3 linked regions of the Homo sapiens genome follow. The protein of the gene in region 1 purifies or fractionates together with the protein of each later gene. This does not show direct contact. Each region holds a gene or a part of one and is shown on either strand. Other genes may lie near its edges.

What was found.
Region 2: the proteins of MGAT4C (region 1) and GAL purify together in Homo sapiens (affinity purification with mass spectrometry; 2 studies listed by BioGRID and IntAct, with this or other methods). This does not show direct contact.
Region 3: the proteins of MGAT4C (region 1) and PLXNA1 purify together in Homo sapiens (affinity purification with mass spectrometry; 2 studies listed by BioGRID and IntAct, with this or other methods). This does not show direct contact.

Annotation. Positions count from the first base shown.
Region 1 is NC_000012.12:85,973,372-85,980,406, reverse strand, and holds part of MGAT4C (alpha-1,3-mannosyl-glycoprotein 4-beta-N-acetylglucosaminyltransferase C), read left to right. Parts: coding exon 1-1,118; 3' UTR 1,119-7,035.
Region 2 is NC_000011.10:68,687,520-68,691,686, reverse strand, and holds the end of GAL (galanin peptides preproprotein), read right to left. Parts: intron 3,847-4,167; exon of another isoform or gene 3,684-3,846; intron 3,674-3,683; coding exon 3,587-3,673; intron 2,896-3,586; exon of another isoform or gene 2,839-2,895; coding exon 2,761-2,838; intron 771-2,760; coding exon 700-770; 3' UTR 512-699; downstream 1-511. UniProt on the Homo sapiens protein: Endocrine hormone of the central and peripheral nervous systems that binds and activates the G protein-coupled receptors GALR1, GALR2, and GALR3.
Region 3 is NC_000003.12:127,014,091-127,021,125, reverse strand, and holds part of PLXNA1 (plexin-A1 precursor), read right to left. Parts: coding exon 7,010-7,035; intron 6,945-7,009; coding exon 6,751-6,944; intron 6,649-6,750; coding exon 6,497-6,648; intron 6,416-6,496; coding exon 6,295-6,415; intron 5,943-6,294; coding exon 5,806-5,942; intron 4,610-5,805; coding exon 4,442-4,609; intron 4,183-4,441; coding exon 4,089-4,182; intron 3,702-4,088; coding exon 3,462-3,701; intron 3,378-3,461; coding exon 3,234-3,377; intron 2,833-3,233; coding exon 2,598-2,832; intron 925-2,597; coding exon 782-924; intron 1-781. UniProt on the Homo sapiens protein: Coreceptor for SEMA3A, SEMA3C, SEMA3F and SEMA6D. Necessary for signaling by class 3 semaphorins and subsequent remodeling of the cytoskeleton. Plays a role in axon guidance, invasive growth and cell migration.

The DNA of each region.
Region 1 (7,035 bases):
CAGTAAAGCGAAAAAAAGGAAACTATTTACTTGAGACAATTAAGTCAATTTTTGAGCAATCCAGCTATGAAGAGCTGAAGGAAATTTCAGTGGTGGTTCACCTAGCAGACTTTAATTCTTCCTGGCGTGATGCCATGGTCCAGGATATTACACAGAAATTTGCGCACCATATTATTGCAGGAAGATTAATGGTTATACATGCTCCAGAGGAGTATTACCCAATCCTAGATGGCCTTAAAAGAAATTACAATGATCCAGAAGATAGAGTCAAATTTCGTTCCAAGCAAAATGTAGATTATGCTTTTCTGCTTAATTTTTGTGCCAATACTTCAGACTATTATGTAATGCTTGAAGATGATGTTCGATGTTCAAAAAATTTCTTAACTGCCATCAAGAAAGTCATTGCATCCCTAGAAGGAACTTACTGGGTAACTCTTGAATTCTCTAAGCTTGGCTACATTGGTAAACTCTATCATTCTCATGATCTCCCACGTTTGGCCCATTTTTTATTAATGTTTTATCAAGAAATGCCTTGTGATTGGCTATTGACTCATTTCCGTGGTCTGTTGGCTCAGAAAAATGTGATCCGTTTTAAACCATCTCTCTTTCAGCACATGGGCTATTATTCATCATACAAAGGGACGGAGAATAAGCTGAAGGATGATGATTTTGAAGAGGAGTCATTTGACATTCCTGATAACCCCCCTGCAAGTCTGTACACCAACATGAATGTGTTTGAAAATTATGAAGCAAGCAAGGCTTACAGTAGTGTTGATGAGTACTTTTGGGGGAAACCACCTTCAACAGGAGATGTTTTTGTGATTGTATTTGAAAATCCAATTATAATAAAAAAAATTAAAGTAAATACTGGAACAGAAGATCGGCAAAATGATATTTTGCATCATGGAGCCCTAGATGTTGGGGAAAACGTTATGCCTAGCAAACAAAGGAGACAATGTTCTACTTACTTAAGACTAGGAGAATTCAAAAATGGAAACTTTGAAATGTCAGGTGTAAATCAAAAAATTCCATTTGATATACATTGTATGAGGATATATGTCACCAAAACACAAAAGGAATGGCTAATTATTAGGAGTATTAGCATTTGGACTTCTTAGCCAATTAAATCAGTATGTTCAGTTTCTGAAGCAGTTCTTCCTGCTTCGTCTTTTGCTACCTTTGTCTTTTGGAGGGAAAGCAATGGATGGGATATGTTAAAAGAAACATTAATTACATTGGCAGTTTTCATTTATACATTGTTGACATAATTTTACTCTTAATACACACTTGTATTTATTTTAACGTCTGAAGTTGAATATCAGTCTATAGCTAATGCTACTTTCATTTATATTTTTAAATGTTCTTAGTTTTAAAATTTCAACTGATTGTCGAAAGGGTAATATGAAAGATTTTAAATGAAAAAAATTTGTTGGATGATGATTTTTGAAAAATAGTCACCAACTGTATATACTTCCTCAAGAACTGATAATTCATTATATCATCAGATAGCTTTTATTAAGCATCTGTGGGAATATACAGTTGGGTGGAATGATAATCTGGTTTATTTTTTCTGTAAACTTAAGTTTCCGTTGACTTCTGTACATCTACAATGAATACCTCCTCATAGAAGTGGTGTCTTTACATAATTTTTTGTGTAGGTGACACTATGGAAAAAGAAAAAAAAGACTTAAAAATATCTCTCCCCTGATTATTTATATGAAAGGGGATATTGTTCATTGTTTAAAAACATTTAATTGAGCACCTATTGTTGATAAATTTTCTGGGGGAAGCAGTCTTTTTCAAGTTTCCCTTTTGAAAAAAAAAAAGAAGAGTTAAGCTCAATATTTTCAGGTTACATTGAGTACCCACATTTAATAGAATAAATTAGGGAAGGCCTATAGTAGTTAGCTCATTCGTACAGACATTTTCAGTATATGCAGAAAATTTTTGGAAATTGATTTTATACATTTTGTATTAAAATCCATGTGATTGAAATTATTGTGATTTATCATATACCTTTTTGGAATTTAAATGGGTATATTATAAAGGAGAAAAGTAAGAACCATAGAAATTAGTTGACTTTTCTAGAATCAAAGATCTATTTCCTAGCAAGGCCAGAATGAGAGATCTGATATTCTGATAACCAGACAATGCTCTTTTTCTCGTATGATTTCTCCTGACAGATTTATGCTTTGTGTTCTATTTGCTACATGCCTGTCAGATAATAAGTTATACCATCTGGAAATAGGTGGTACAATTCCTGCATAAATAATATTATCCTAAATAATGTCCTAAATGATGCTTTTTTGGTATAAGCACCCAAATAGTAAGCAAACTTGACTAAACTTTTCCTAATAGGGATTGGAGAGTGTGTCTTTACAATGTGTCCGTTAAAGTAATTCAGGACACCTTAGTGTGTCCTAAAGACATTGGTTTTCAGAATGTCCTGAGCTTGTCTCTTCCTTTTTGTTTTTTAATGAACAGCAAAAACTAAGGGATTTATTATAAAGGGAAATGGAAGGTGCTTCATATATGTTTAAGAAACTCAAGTACGTGTTCATATAGATGACTCTGTGTGTGTGTGTGTGTGTGTGTGTGTGTGTGTGTGTGTGTGTGTGTGTGTGTGAAGGCTAGACTTTTGCTGGTAAGACAGAATGAGGAAATCTTCCTGCTCTTCCTTTTCATACTGAAACACAATCCTTAAGATTTACTGGTATGCTGTGGTGCAAACAACACTAGGATATTTTTATTTTATTCGTTCTCTGCAAATAAATGAGAAACTCAGATAAAAAATGGAAACTTTTTATTTCATTTATAAACAGCTGTTGTGTATTTTCTTTGTATTCAGCTACTAAAGTGTTAGAAGAAAAACGAACCTTTCATAAGAGGCTAAATATTAATATTTTGTGAGGCACCTAAATCTTACAGTCATAGGAAAATATGAACACTGCCACTAAATTATTATCTTTACCTTGATTTAGAGGATACTTGCCAGACACCTAAAAATGTTCTATTTTCTTTATTTTTCTTATCTTTTATTAACCGGCTAGTTGATAGTATTGTGTGTATATCTCAGAAGTTACAAATGGCATTATTTTCTTCACTGTCAATGATAAAAGGTACACAATTGTATGCCAAAGACATGTAATATCAAGAGCTAGGCAGACTCCCTGAAATGAGTTGTAACCCCTTACATATTCTTCTGGGAATGGCTTTCTAAAGATCAGCTATTGGTGTCTATCAATGTCTTAAAAATGTTTCAAGAAACATTGCTGAGGGTAGCAGTGAAGTTGGATGTTTGCTAGGAAATTATGAAAACAAATGTGACTCAGAGAGGTCATTTCACATTTTATCTTTATATCCTCTCTTTACTAAACCTGTGTTTGGATAAGTTGGTCAATCATCCAAGGATCCTCTATGTTTTCTTTACAGTTGACACTGGGTCAATTTTCTAAGGAAAACACCTTGACAAATAAAGCATCTTCATTAGAGGTCAGGAGGAAAAATAACTATTCTCTTTCAAAAGAAAATCTGAACAATTTTTTTAGCATGGCCCAATGTTCTATTTCCTATATTTAGAAACTTTGAATAAGGGTCTAGTAATCTTGTCTCAGAGGCATAGAAACAAAAGTACAGTTATTAGGTTTAACTATACTCAAACTATTTGCTATTTTTAAACATTTTTGCTGTAAGTTTATATATATATACATATATAATACATATATACATATATATAATATATATATACATATATATATAATTTTCTTTGTTAAAAATAACAATTGAAAAAGACTGGCATGAGACATGAATGGCTGAGTCATTTAATTGCCATACAAATAAAATGCTGACAGGTTTCAAGCAAAAAATACAGTATGCACCTTAAATAATGCCTCAGAATTGTATAATTTAAGCTCACTAAAAACCTTACTTAGTCTTAAAATTCTCCTTAGGGGAGCCTTTTCAGCAGTTATGGACATCAAAGAAAAAAGTATCTTGTAAAAGCACAATGAAATTTAGAAAATACACATTTTAGTGGCAATCACAAATGTCAATATAAAAGATACATAAAATATGTTAATGCAAGAACTTTTTCATATTCATTGAAAACTATAACTTTGTGCTATTTATAAAGTAGATATTTTCCAGGTATGAAAATATAATTTGGAAACCAACCTGTCGTTTAGATCTATTTCTTTCATATAGCTACACTATGAGTTGTGAACATTCCATTTCTTACTGGGCCAGTATTCTCTGGGAATTTTTATAATGCTATCATAGAAAAACTGTTCTGTATAATAATTATATAAAAAATGAAACAAACATTTTCAAATTGTAATATATGATGTGGTATGGAAAGTACCTACATTTTTAGATGCTCAAATATTGGCATATTTCATGTCAGTATTTGCCAATTTGTCAACAAGTTTATGGCAAAGAACATGATACCAGGATTAACATTGAAAACACTACATCCAGTGCCATCTAACAATTGAAGGAAACAGTGTGTAATTCTCTTCTTTTTCCTTGACAATACATCCATCAACACAGTAATGGCATCATATTACTGAGTAATAGAGCTCACACTTAAACTTTATAATATTTATTATGGGATCTACTGATAAAATGATTTACCGTTTTGTACAAATTCAACTGATTTTGGGGGGTTTCTTGTAAGATTTAATATTAATTTTAGGATAATTTTATCCTGTTTCTTTTGATTCATGATCCCAAACTTTCTAGATCTTGCTTCTGTCATTCCACGTCTTATTATGCCTCCTCAGCTTTGTGTTTCAACAAATTTTATATGCATGCCTTTTGTCTTCATGGGAGACAAAACAGAAGGTTCATACAGACTTGATTTTGACACCCAGTTCTGCATTACCAGCCTCCCAATATGAGGAAATTTACTTAACCTTCTTGAAACTCAGTTTCTACATCTGTGAATAGGAATAATTTTACCTCATATGTTTTTAAAGGTAGCAATTTTACCTTGTAGCTCCTTGTAGAGCTGGAATTGAGATAACATAAACTAGGCACACAATAAATATTTGTTTCCTTTTTATCCATGTCACGTATATGTAACAGGATATGACCCTGGAAAACATTACCAGAGGCCTTCATTGTAATCAATAACAATTATAAAATTTACTGCCCTTTAAAAATGTTATTCAGCCTACCTTTTCATATTTTGTCCAGAGAATATCATGTGGAATTATACAGACACTTTCCTAAAATCAATATATATTCCTGTCATTCTAATTTATTACTCTAGAAACCTTATCAAAAATATCAAAATTGCCCCTAGTGCTCTCATCACAAATAATAATATTCATTTCTGTTTTAAGAAATCTTGATCCATTTACATTGAAAAACAAAGAAACATAAAGTCATTTCCTAGTTTCTAAGATGTTGTTTAGAATCTACCTTAAGCTCAGAAATGCAGTCTTCAGAATCTTTTTACTTTTTTTTTTTAATGTCAGGATCCGGTTCTCTGGCATCTTTTCTATCATTGGCAAAAGTTATCAATGCACTGACCTATAAATTACCTTGGCACTGATGTTTGAAATAGGTATCTTATCTGCTAGTCTACTTTGAGTTTCATTGTTGAGTTTTCCATTACTTTGAATTTCTTTGTTCAGATTGGGGTTATTCTTTTTAGGAAGAAAAAGGCCATAACAAAATTCAATGTGATTAGTTATTGCCATTTATTTTTTGTTTGCTTTTAAACTTTTTTTTTATTTATCCCAAACAGAGGATATATCTTTTATTACTTTTTGGCATGCTTTGAAATGATTTCATTATTGCATATGTGCATGTGTGTATCTACATATGGTTAATCTCTCAATCTGTGTGTATGTATATATACATATGTGTATGTACATATGTGTATATATGTATACATACTTGAATATTATGTGAATATGTGTGTATATTTGTGTATATATATACATATATACATGTATGTATTTGTATATGTGTTGTGTAAGTGTGTCTGTGTGTATGAGAGAAAGACAGAAGGATATGCACCATTTGCATTATTTTTTAGCCTTTACACCTCCACTTATTCTTGGATTTTCCTGACACACTGTCCTCCTGGTTGTGTTCCTCTTCTGAACTTGCTTTTGCTTTCATGTTCTCACTCAAATCTTTTATACATGACATCCTTTGAAAATCACAGCACATTAGAGATCTTTGTGCATCCTTTTAGATACTTTAAATTTATTAAAAGTGTACTAGAGGAGGCCATCTCTCTCAAAACAGAATTTTTCTTTTAGAGTTTCAGGTTTATGGTTTTTATTTGAATTCTTTAACATTAAAAGATCAAAATATGAGTTGCATAGCATTCTCTTTCTAAGCTATAAAAATATTAAGATAACAAGGTTGCACTTTCCCAAAGTTCTAGTCCCTTCCACCTCATTAATCTGTTCATCACATTTACTCCAAGTCCAGGGTAGAATTTGCTTCAATAATCCCAATATTTTCTGAGATGTTTAATATCCTATTTTTAACATTGAAATTGAAATGTATGTTTGAGACCATTTGCCAGATAACTGGATCTGAATATCTTTTCTGAAAAACATGGATTTGAGACCAAAGCAGTTTTTGATTTGACTGTTGTTTCAGCTTTCATTTCACTCTGTCTAGACGGTCTCTTAGAAGATTTACCAAAAAGTTAAATTGATTATGTGAGAAAGTGATAGGTAAATTGTATATGACCATAGAAGTACAATTAAATTAAGAATATAGCATGATCAAATTTTCACATTATATTGGATTAAAAAGTACCCTAAGTAGCCATCTCCTTAAAGTAGGTGAGCCAAAGACATAATAATAAAATATTCAATATTTTTCTATAAAATACAAATTTCCATGAGGCACACATACATTAAATTTAATATAAAGAGAATCATTACTTTATTTAAGAGTTGTTTAAAGGTGCACAACAACAGTGAGTTACCAATATTCAGAACCTTAGTCTATAATTTCAATGTACTGTAAGTTACTACAGCTTTAACCACAATAGCTGGCATAACC
Region 2 (4,167 bases), on another chromosome or scaffold:
TGTCACGTTAAGAGATATTCCCACAGGCCTTCCTTCACACAGCACCATCCCTGCACACACCTCCTGCCCTTGCCTTTCTACCTGCCCGCCCATCTCTCCTCTCCTGCCTTGCTCCTGGCCCTCCCACCTGGCCAACACGTCTGTTCTCAGCACTGACCACCTCCATGAGTACCACGCAACTCACCCATCTGTTTAAGGTTGTTGTAGTCTTTTTCATTCCCATCTCCCTAAAATATCAGCTCCACGAGGGCAGGGGTTTTGTCTGTTTTGTGTTTTTGTTCATCTCAGTAACAGACTTACCTTCATAATTACATTTGACTCAGCTTAATATGGAGATAAATTTATGTCCCCTGGACATGCAATAACAGGTGGTGTCTCAGATGCTCTTGACGGTAGAATTTGGGTTTAAAATTCATGTCTAATCCACGATTATGATCAAGCTTTATCTTTTAAAACCCATGGGTGGCGCTGGTGATGAGACAGAGGTGTGGAAGAAAAAGACAATTGCAAGTAATTGCTATTCTTTATTTTGCCACTCAAAATAATTACCAAAAAAAAAAAATCTTAAATGATAACAACACAACATCAAGGCAAAGAGAACAGGAATGGCTGACTCTGCATAAATTGGCCGAAGATTATCCATTATCTTAAGGTTTGACTTCAGGTTACAGCACACAGACAAACATGCCCAGGAGGCTCTCAGGACCGCTCGATGTCTTCTGAGGAGGCTGCGGCGGGGAGATCCAGGAGGCGGTCGAGGGCACCGGCCTCTGCAAAGGGAAGAGCCACATCTGAGCAGCAACTTCTTAATATGCACATGAGAGAATTACAACCACGACACATGCTACAGGAAGCGGCGTGTGGTCGTCCTCTGTAAAGATTCTTACCAGATTAAACCCAGAATCAGGGACAACACTCTGTATTCCTCACTTCGTAATGATTTAACTCCCACAGTTAGTAAGCATTTAAAACTGTCAGACTTTTAAATTCAGGCTTTAAAGAGGTATAATTCCTAGCTGAGTAATGAGAGCTGGTATATCCTAAGGAAAGAGTTTCCATGTTACAAAATTAAAAACAAATGAAAAACAAAAATCTAGCAGAGTCCCTCTGCCCCTTGTAGGAAAAGTCACCCCAGCTTTTCTCCCAGAGGCTCCACTGGGCTCCAACAGAGGGAACTTGGTGACTCGGTTTTGAGATTTCTAATGAACACCGCCTTTTCCAAGACCTTCTCTGGCAGTCTCCTTCCCCCGCTCCCCTCCCCTCACTCCTCTTCCCTCTCCCCATCGCCACCTAAAGTGCAGCCCGATAACACTGCAAATGAAAAACATCCTGATCCAAAATGAACCCAAGGATTAGCCTTGATTTTTCAAAACTGGACAAAACTGTGATGTGCAACTGAAGGTCTCCACTGGAGAGGCTAACGGTCCATCCCTCCTCCCCACCACCAGCTCCCTGTTAACTCTCAGAGCAGCAGGTGAAGGTCTTCTCCACTGGAGAGGCTAAGTGGTCCATCCCTCCTCCCCTCCACCACCTCCCCCTTAACTCTCAGAGCACCAGGTGAAGGTCTTCTCTGCTGGAGAGGCAAAGCGGTCTATCCCTCCTCCCCACCACTGCCTCCCCCTTAACTCTCAGAGCACCAGGTGAAGGTCTTCTCTGCTGGAGAGGCAAAGCGGTCCATCCCTCCTCCCCACCACCACCTCCCTGTTAACCCTCAGAGCACCGGGGCCGCTTTCCGGCTCCCTCCACTGCTGCAGTAGGACCTGTGTGGTTATCTGATCAAGGCCAGATGCCCATCGTAGAATGAATGCCAAGCGTAGTGTGCGGAGGTCTCCTCATCCCCAGTGTTTGCAGAAGACACTGGAAGCCAGGATCAGAGCCTTTCCAGTTAGATTTCAAGGCAGCCTGCCTGGCAGGAAGGCTGCATAGAGAAACACTGCAGTCTAAGATATGGGCTTCTATTAATTTCCCATGCTTAGAAAATATGGTTTAGGGCCAGGCACAGTGGCTCACGCCTGTAATCCCAGCACTTTGGGAGACTGAGGCAGACAGGTCACTTGAGGCCAGGAGTTCAAGATGAGCCTGGCCAACATGATGAACCCCAGCCTCTACTAAAAATACAAAAATTAGCCAGGCATAATTGTGCGCACCTGTTTTCCCAGCTACCTGGGAAGAAGAGGCACGAGAATCACTTGAGCCCAGGAGGCAGAGGCTGCAGTGAGCTGAGATTGCACCACTACATTCGAGCCTGGGCGACAGAGTGAGATGAAGGAAGGAAGGAAGAAAGAGAGAGAGAAAGAGGGAGGAAGAAAAAGGAAGGAAGGAAGAGAAAGAAGAAAGAAAGAAAAGAGAGAAGAGAAAGAAAAGACAGAGAAAAAAGAAAAGAGAAAAGGTTTAGGACGGTTCACAAAGAACTTGGCCTGTAGTATACCTCTGCCCTAAAAGGTACAGCAGTTGTCACCGTGTGAATAGATATGGTTCCAGTAGAATGAGCTGCACCCTGAGGCCCACTCTCTTCCTGGGACCAGCGCTGGCCCGATGGCCCTCCACGACGGTAGAATGCCCCTGCCGCAATCCCAGCCCTCTGGAGCTAGCTCTAGTGTTACATTCTCTGTTATCCCGACACACAGCCAAACAGGACTTTGTACGTAGATAAGTAATCGGCTACTTCCCAGGGGGATTCTATGGGTTCTCTTCTCGATGGGCCTTTTACGTTTCCAGTGTACTAAGAGATGAATGTTAAGTTGATGATATTTCACATACCTTTGAGATGCAAGAAAGACAGAAACTCAATGATTGTGCGCATGATATTGTTTTCAGGTATGGACCTGTCAAAGCTTCCTAGAAGAGAAAAGATCAACATTCACGACTTGTGCAGAGGGTGCTTCAGTGTCTCAGGTCATCCCCCTCCCTACAGAGGAGCTGGGCGCTGCAAGGTCAATGATCTGATCCCAGCAGCCTGAGGCCCTGCTGTGCTTTCCAAGGCCCTTGTTCAATGTGAGGGAGTTGGGGAGATATCCAGTTCGAGGCCTCGCTTTTCTTCTTCTTCTTCTTTTTAATTGAGATGGAGTCTCACTCTGTTGCCTAGGCTGGAATGCAGTGTCATGATCTTGGCTCACTGCAACCTCCGCCTCCCAGGTTCAAGTGATTCTCGAGCCTCTGCCTCCCAAGTAGCTGGGATGACAGGCACCCACCACCACGCCTGGCTAATTTTTATATTTTTGGTAGAGACAGGGTTTTGCCATGTTGGCCAGGCTGGTCTTGAACTCCAGACCTCAGGTGATCCACCCGCATCAGCCTCCCAGAGTGCTGGGATTACAGGCAGGAGCCATCGTGCCCAGTCCCGCTCTTCTGGAGGCCCTGGTGCCTGGGCAGCCTCCCAGCCTAGAAGGACCCCTTGCTGTCTCGGGTTTGCACGTTCTGTTTGCAGCTGCTGACAGGTGTGGCGAGGCCACATCGTCTTAGTCAAGTCATGGCCAGGCTTGGGCTGCAGCTGTGGACAGCCCCGACACCCACAGCTGTCCCCTGCATGCACCTGGGAGCTGGTGGAAGTGAGGTGCCCCGGGGCCCGGGATAGGAGTCCTCTCACCTGGTTTCATGTCATCTTCGGGCCGCAGCTCCCGCTTGCTGGTGAGGCCATTCTTGTCGCTGAATGACCTGTGGTTGCCAACGGCATCTGTTTGCAGATCAGAGAGGAAAGCCTCTGGGTGTGACTGTCATGCACGCCCTCCCCACACCCAAAGAAGGACACAGGGCTGCCTGTAGCCAACACACACACGCAACTCGACTGTGAAATAGAGCCCAGGGACAGACACCAGAGCAGAGGGAGCGATTCTCCACCCAGCTGAGGTAAGAGCTTGGCCGCTCACACCAGGGTCAAAGGGAATGTGAGGGTTTGCACAGGGTGGGTGGGAGAAAGGGAGGTGTGGCTCCTGAAGTGGGGGAGAGGCCCAGAACCTGCCCTGTTGCAGGGGTTGCGCCTGGGTCCAGAGGAGCTGGCATCTGAGCTGGCACTGAGCTGGCATCAAACTGGGTGACTCCCTGGCAGACAACAGGAGCTGGGTCCTCATGTCCCTGAAAGCATGGGGGACGCTGAAGAGTTTAAGTTGTGACTGAATCTGATTTTTATTTTCACTCTGGCAGCTGTGTGCAAGATGGACTGGAGCCAGA
Region 3 (7,035 bases), on another chromosome or scaffold:
ACAGAGTCACCACAAGGGACATGGGCTCCCCAACATCCAAGGCACACGGTTGGGGGGTGCCCTCAGCTGGAGAGTGTGACTGAGCTAACCTGCCGAGCCCCTGGCCGTGGCTCGCCAAGGACTGGCTCCTAGCCTGCCTGCCGCTGGGGGCCTTTTAGGGGTGTGGGAGCCAGCCCTCTTTTCCCTCGCCAGGCTCGCTGCCAAGGTCTACGGGGCAAAGCCCTACTCTCTGAGACCCTGGTGCTATGCCAGCCACATGCTCCCCTCCCAAACCGCCATAGCAGACTTCATCAGGCACCCGCACCTCCCAGCACACGGCCCCTGCCCAGCGAGGCTTCGCATCCAGAGCCACCCAGGAGACCAGGCCAGTGGAGCCGCAGGCGGGACCCCCAACAGAGGCAGGGCCCAAGGGGCAGCCACCGGGGAGGTGCCAGAAGCCCAGGCTGACAAGTGGTTTGCTGGGATGAGGCCTGGCATCCCACGGAGGCCCTGGGGCCAGAGCCTCCTCCTGCCCTCTGGAGGTACTTTATGGAGCAGAGCCGTGCTGGCCATTCCCCTGCCCCAACCCCAGGGCTCAGGGCTCCACTGTGCTTGCCTGGTCTTGGTTCTGCCTCCCAGCACCTGCTCCCCACTTGGCTGAGCCCAGAGCCCTGCAGGCCTGGACCCTCCCCCAGGCCACACAGGCTGCCCCATACCATCCATCAGCACCCAAGGAGCCTCAAAGGCAGAAGATAGCAGCTGCCTCTGAGTTCCTGTGACCCCCCGGAGCCAGTGGTCCTACCTCCATCTCCTTGAGCACAGGGTGGTCCTCGATCCCAGGAAAGAGCACCCGCATGGCATATGTCCGGTAGTCAAGGAAGGGGATGCCGGCACCGTCCAGGTCATTGGTCAGCTCGTGGATGTCTGTCTGCAGCTCTGCAAAGGCTGTGGCCAGATGCGGCGTCAGGGGCAGCATGCCCTGGTGGCCCCGCTCCATGCCCCAACCCTCCCACTCTTGGGGCCTACATCAAATCCTGGCTCTGACACTTACTGGTTTCGTGATCTTAAGGAAACTACTGTGCCTCTTCGTCCCCCAGCTACTACAGCCCTAGCACAGGGATAGTAACTCTCCTCTGCAAGGTTCCCACAGGATCAAGCAAGACAAGGGCAGAGAAAGCATCAGCACCAGGGGCAGGCTGGGCAGGGCCTCCTGCATCTCAGACACTGGCAGTTAAGCGTAGAGCAGCTTTGGAGTTCGGGCTCCTTCCACCCGCTGTGAGGTGGTGGAGTGCGGCCAGGGGTGAGGTCCCAGGGCTGCAGGCTGTCCCCAAGCCCCCACACCATTGCATGCACATCTCGGGCCTGGTGCACCCTCAACATGGCCCACCCTGCTCAGGGCCAGCTCTGCCTCTGTCAGGAACAAAGGCAGGCAGGCCCTGACAGAACATTCCAGAGCTGTGAGGTGTCAGTCCTGTGGCAGCCCGAGGATCAGGCTATCTGATCAGAAGCCAAAGGAGTGCCAGGCAGGCTCTGGGGGACATCTGACAGGTTTAATTAAGAGCTGGAGTCTTCGTCTCCTGGGCATCGCTGCCAGGCGTCTAGTTATCTGCACCTGGCTGGCCTGGAGCAGCCACCAGCCACTGCATCCACACACGCCAGCCTCGCCAGACAGCCAGCCTCAGCAGGCGGGAGCACAAGGGAGGTCCAGGCCACCTGCCTCCCACCTGGCCCCAACACACACCTGCCTCCAGTCCCACCAGGGCTGCCCAAGAGGTAGGGTGACCCTCAGCCCACCACAGGGCCACTTAGGTTTGTCTGGGACTGAGAGGGCTCCCAGGATGCAGAACTTTGCATTTTAAGACTGGCTGAGTCCTGTGCAAACAAAACACCCCATCCCAGTTGAGTCCCAGTGGAATTCATGACAACCCCATGCTGGACCACATGGCTAAGGTCCTACACTGCAGCAGGAACACTCCTAGTATCTGCCCCCTAGAGCCCTGAACATGTGTGAGTTACTATCTGCAAACGCTCAAAGTCTCGCCCGGCATGGAACAGATTTCTGCCACTCACACCTGCCCTGATCAGGAGCATGGTGTGGCATGACTCCCCCTATAGACATCTCAAGGACAAAGGTCAGCTCAGGCCAAGATCTCTATGTGCCCAGGGACTGCCAAAGCGCAAGGGCTCCCCATTGCTGCATGGTGGAAGCACCCCTCTCTGCTGCTCCGCTGGCACCAGCCAACCCACCACGACTCCCAGCACCCAGGGAAAGTAGGCACTGTCATTGTGCCCACTCTAGAGACGACAAGACTGAGCCACAGAAGGGTAAGTAGCCACCTTCAGCCTTATAGCCCAGCTGGGATACAAATGCAAACAGTCTGGCTTTGGGTTCTGTGTCGCAAGCAGCACCCCAAGGAGGTGGTACCTGCTGCAGGGCCAGGCCCTGGTCAGGCACCCGCCCACTGCCCTGGGACCAGCTCTGGCACAGCAAGGCTATCAGGAACATTGTAAACTGAGCTGAAGCAGGGTGGGGGCGGCGGTGGGAAGTAGGTGTGGGGACAGGCCAGGGCCTGGCTCGGAGGTGGCAGTTGCCCCAGTGAGCCCTGGCCCCAACAGACCTTCCTTGCATTCGAGGGCCACGCGGGACTCCAGGTTGTCCATCTGGAGCTGCAGCCGCTTGAGTGTGCGGTCAGCATCTCGTGACTTGCGCTTGTAGGCGATGAGCACAGCCACGATGACCAGCAGCAGGAGACCCCCGCCTCCGCCAATGCCCACAATGGCAGGCAGCGTCAGCAGGCTGTCCGAGTACACCTGCAGTGTCCCTGGCGAGAACTCGAAGCCACCTGCCCGCACCTGCCAGTGGGTGGAGGCCACTCAGGAGCTTCCCATGCTTTCCACAAAGCTTGGGAGCCCCTCCCGATGGGCAAGACCCACCCCCAACACCTGCCTGTGGGAAAGGTCCCACCGACAGGGGCACAGAGTGGTCACCAGGGTGGAGACACTGGGACCCAGGGCAGGCGCCTGGCCAGCCAGGGCACCACTGGCATGGCAAGGGCTCAGGGTGGGTAGGCAGTCTCGGGGGGCTCAAGGAGGTGGCAGGCTGAAGGCTACGGCAGGGCCTGCACTGGAGCCGGGCGCCCTCTGAGCTAGGGGTGAGTCTCGGGCAAGGTCAGAGCTGGGGCTGTGCTAGTGGGGCAGGGTCCACAGGTGGGGCATGGCTCTCCCAGCTCTGCACCCCCGGTGGACAGACGCACCGTGACCTTGTGCTGCCCAGTGAGGTTGGGCGCCTCGCACAGCAGTTGCGTCTCCGACACGGTGAGGGTACAGGGTGTGGAGCCGATGAGCACCGTGTAGTTGAGTCGGGAGTTGCCGGGTGCAGGTGGCAAGAGGTTCCGGCCCTGTAGGAGATGGGGGTGAGCCAGAGCCCAGGACGAGGGGCCTCTTCCCTGGCTTGGCCCAGCCTACGGGCAATGGTGACCCACCTTGAGGATGAGTGGGGAGCTGGGCTTCAGCTCCAGCAGGCCAGTGGGGCTGAGTGGCTCCAGTACGGGGTCAGGGTAGTAGAGGAAGGAGGTGGAGTTGAGCACAAGCAGGGAGCGCACGTTGTCCATGACGAAGCCCAGCTCATCCGGCCGCTCCCCCAGCTCTGGTGGGCTGCGCACAGGGTTGGCCACAGACGGGGCGCGGCATACCATGGTGGTGTCATTGTACACCAGGCAGCCCTGGAGACACAGGGTGGGGATGCTGGGCGGGACCTCCGCGAGTGGCCCGGCAGCTCCCAGTGACAGAGCCCCTGGCCTGGGGGCTGCCTGCTCCCTGCACAGATGATGCCAGGCACTAGCAGGGCTGGTCCTGGGCCACCCACCCGACGTGGACCAGGGACATGTGGCCTGAAGGAGAGGTGTGTGCAGCCAGCAACCCAGAGCCAGACCTTCTACCCGCCAGGCAGGACAGGTGCCTCCCCAGGGGTCTCCAGGCACAGCCAAGGTTGGCATAAGCTGGGAAGGGGCAGGGGTAGGGGCAGGGGCAGGGACACGGGTATTCCTAGCAGGAGCCCCATCCCAGGTGAAGGCCTGGACCGAGGTGGGCAGCTGAGGGCAGGGACTCACGTTCTCCCTCTCAATGCCTCCATACTTGGCCCGGATTCGGGGTTCACGGACAGTGGCCAGGTTGGTGCCTGTGACCGTCAGGAGGGTCCCACCGCTGGAACAGGACAGGGGTGGGGGGGTCACCAAATGATGCTGGGGCCCAGTGAGCTGGAAACGTGGGCCACAGCTCAGCCAGGCAAAGCCTGCCTTCCCCAAAGACAGGAAACAGGTAAAAGCTCTTGGCAAGGGGTGCTTCCCGGCAGGATAGTACCCGGCATGCAGGAGGGCCACCGCCAAGTGCCCAGTGGAAGAGCTCCTGGCTCAGCGCTGCTCTCAATAGCTGGGGATAGGGAATGGGTGTTGCTGGGCCCCACCTGTTGATGCTCCACTCGGGGTCGATCCTCAGGATGGTGGGGTCCTCGGTGTAGTTGTACTTCACCTCAGGGTTGGTGAGCTGGGCGCGGTTGATGTTGATGATGATGGGAGCGCTGCCAGGGCTCTGCCCGGGGGGTGTCAGGCACCGGATCTCACGGGAGTTCCTCCTGGAGGTGCCCGAGTGGGACAGTGAGGAGCACACGGGTGGAACCCAGGCAGGTGGAATGCAGATGCATTGAGGGACGGTGGGAACAGCGCCATCTGTCACAGGTACTGCCTTGGGTGGCTGCATACTATCACCGCTACTTTCCCTCCCAGGGCTGTGCATGTCTGTCCTACCCTCGCCCTGGCTCCCAGCCCCTTCAGGCCCCCACTGTTGCCCAGCCTGGCATTTGGGACCCGGCCTGCCGCCTCTCCAGGTCTGCTTTCATCACAGCCTCCCTGTCGCCCACACCCACTCCTGGTGACCCTGGCCAGGGCTCCACACCCACCAGGCCTCTGCCTCCCCAGAGGCAGTAGGCAGCAGGCCCGTCCCACGCACGCCAGGCTGGGAGGTAGGCTCATGCTGCCCTCCCTCTGTCCCTGGGGAGGGCTGGCGAGACTAAGCCCTGGCGCGACCTTCCCTGCCTGTCTCAGGGCCAGCCTCACTCAGCCGGGGCTCCGAGTGCTGGGAGCCCAGCACCCACTCCTACTACCCTGGGCCAGGCAGACACCTTCCCTCTCGGCACCTGTCCCAGTGGGAATACCTCGCCCTATCCCCGCATCCCAGGGGGCTGTGAGGAGACTAGATGAGCTGGCCTGGGTGGGGGTCACGGGGACACCCCACTGGGCAGGCAGCCAGGCATAGCCCACACCTGGGTCCGGACCCTCAGTTCTTCCACCACTGCCAGGAGCCCCACAGCCACCAGGCCCCCTCAGCTGCAGACACCAATGATTAGTCTGATAACGGGTAATTACCATAGGAAAATATTTAAAGGGACATTCCATTATCATCCCTAATCTAAAATTATCCACTTCAAGCCTCAGGGCTTTTGTTAAGATTTCTGTTTTCTCTCTTAAAAATTTTTAAAAAATACTTCTTATTTTGTACCCAAGGGATTCCCCCCTTCCCCACAGGGAAGAACCAGGGCAGAGGCAGCCAAGTTGCCCCGCCCCACAAAGGCAGGCCCCACGCCCATCACCGCCCAGTCCTACCACTCTGGAGGTAGCCTGTTTCCATGGTAACCTCCGCCTCTGGGTTTCACAGTGATCACCCCAGCCAGGCTCTCCATAGCCCCGTTGCCCAGGCAACAAGAAGGGGCATGCAACCATCTGAAACAGGAGGAGGGGCAGCCAGGCCCCCACCCCCACCTGCACCCCGTACCAGGAGAAGGAGCAGGGCCGGCCACCGACCGACACAGCCACATCACTGCCTGCGTTCAGGTGGCTTCCCTCGATGCCAATCCAGGTGCCCCCTGACAGAGGCCCACGGGAGGGGCTCACACGGTAGAAGGTTGGTGTCTGCAGGAAGAGGGAACTTGCTGAAACTCTCAGGAAAGTCCCCCTCGGGCCACATGGGGACAGGCCCCACTTGGCCTGCTTACCCCCACAGACAGTTCCCCAGACTAGGAGCCCGCATGCCCGGGAGCTGCACTTCAGAGCCAGTACTTCCAGGTTTCTCAGGCACAGCCCAAGGTGAGCCAGGGAGCCCTGGAGCTGGCCTAGGCACAGGAGGGGAGGGGCAGCACCCAGGCCGTGGAAAAGCAGTGGCAGAGCATGGCCAGACAAGGGGCCCTGAAGAGGCACAGAAGCCCTGAGCGGCACCCTCTCAGAGCAGCAGAGAATAGGGAGAGAGGGAGGGCAGCAGACTCACCACGAAGGTGAAGCGCTTGGGTGACAGGGCGCGGTAGTGTGGTGAGCAGTCCCGCACACACACCTCCACCAGGGCGTCATGGGCACGCACGGAGCTGGCGTCCCCGATCTCACAGACGATCCTGTGGGCAGGCGGGCCTCAGGGGCTGCAGGAGCCCCGCCCCGTCCCGTCCCGCCCCGCACACACCCAGGGCTGCACTCACTGCTCCGCACTGATGTACTCGCTCTCCACAGGGCTGCACAGCACCTTGCCCACGCGCACGCCCAGACGCACGTCTTCGAATCGCAGGCCCAGGTTCTCGCCTGTGATAGTGAGCCGCGTGCCGCCCTGCCTCGGGCCCGTCTCGGGGGACAGCTGAGGGAGGCAGAGGCTGGGGTACAGGCATCCCACAGGGCGTAGGGTGTGCGGTGGTGCAGGGCGGGGCATGGGGTGTGGGGGCAGGGCTGGGGGCCCTACCTTGAGGATCTTGGGGTCGGTGCAGCGACTGCTGCCGTGACGCGCGTGCATCCACGATGCAGGTGTGTCGGCAGCGCAGTGGTGTCGCAGGGAGCAGCGGCGCTCGGCCACGCACCATCCGCACTCGAAGCGCGGGTCGGCCTTGAGGCAGAGGCCGCAGCTCTCGCGCAGGGCCGGGCACTTGTAGAGGTGCGCTGTGGGGAGGGGTGCGGTCAGCTCGGGCCCGCCCACTGCCCACCCCGCCGGGGCGCCCACTCACCCTGGATGTTCTGTGGGTTGTCAATG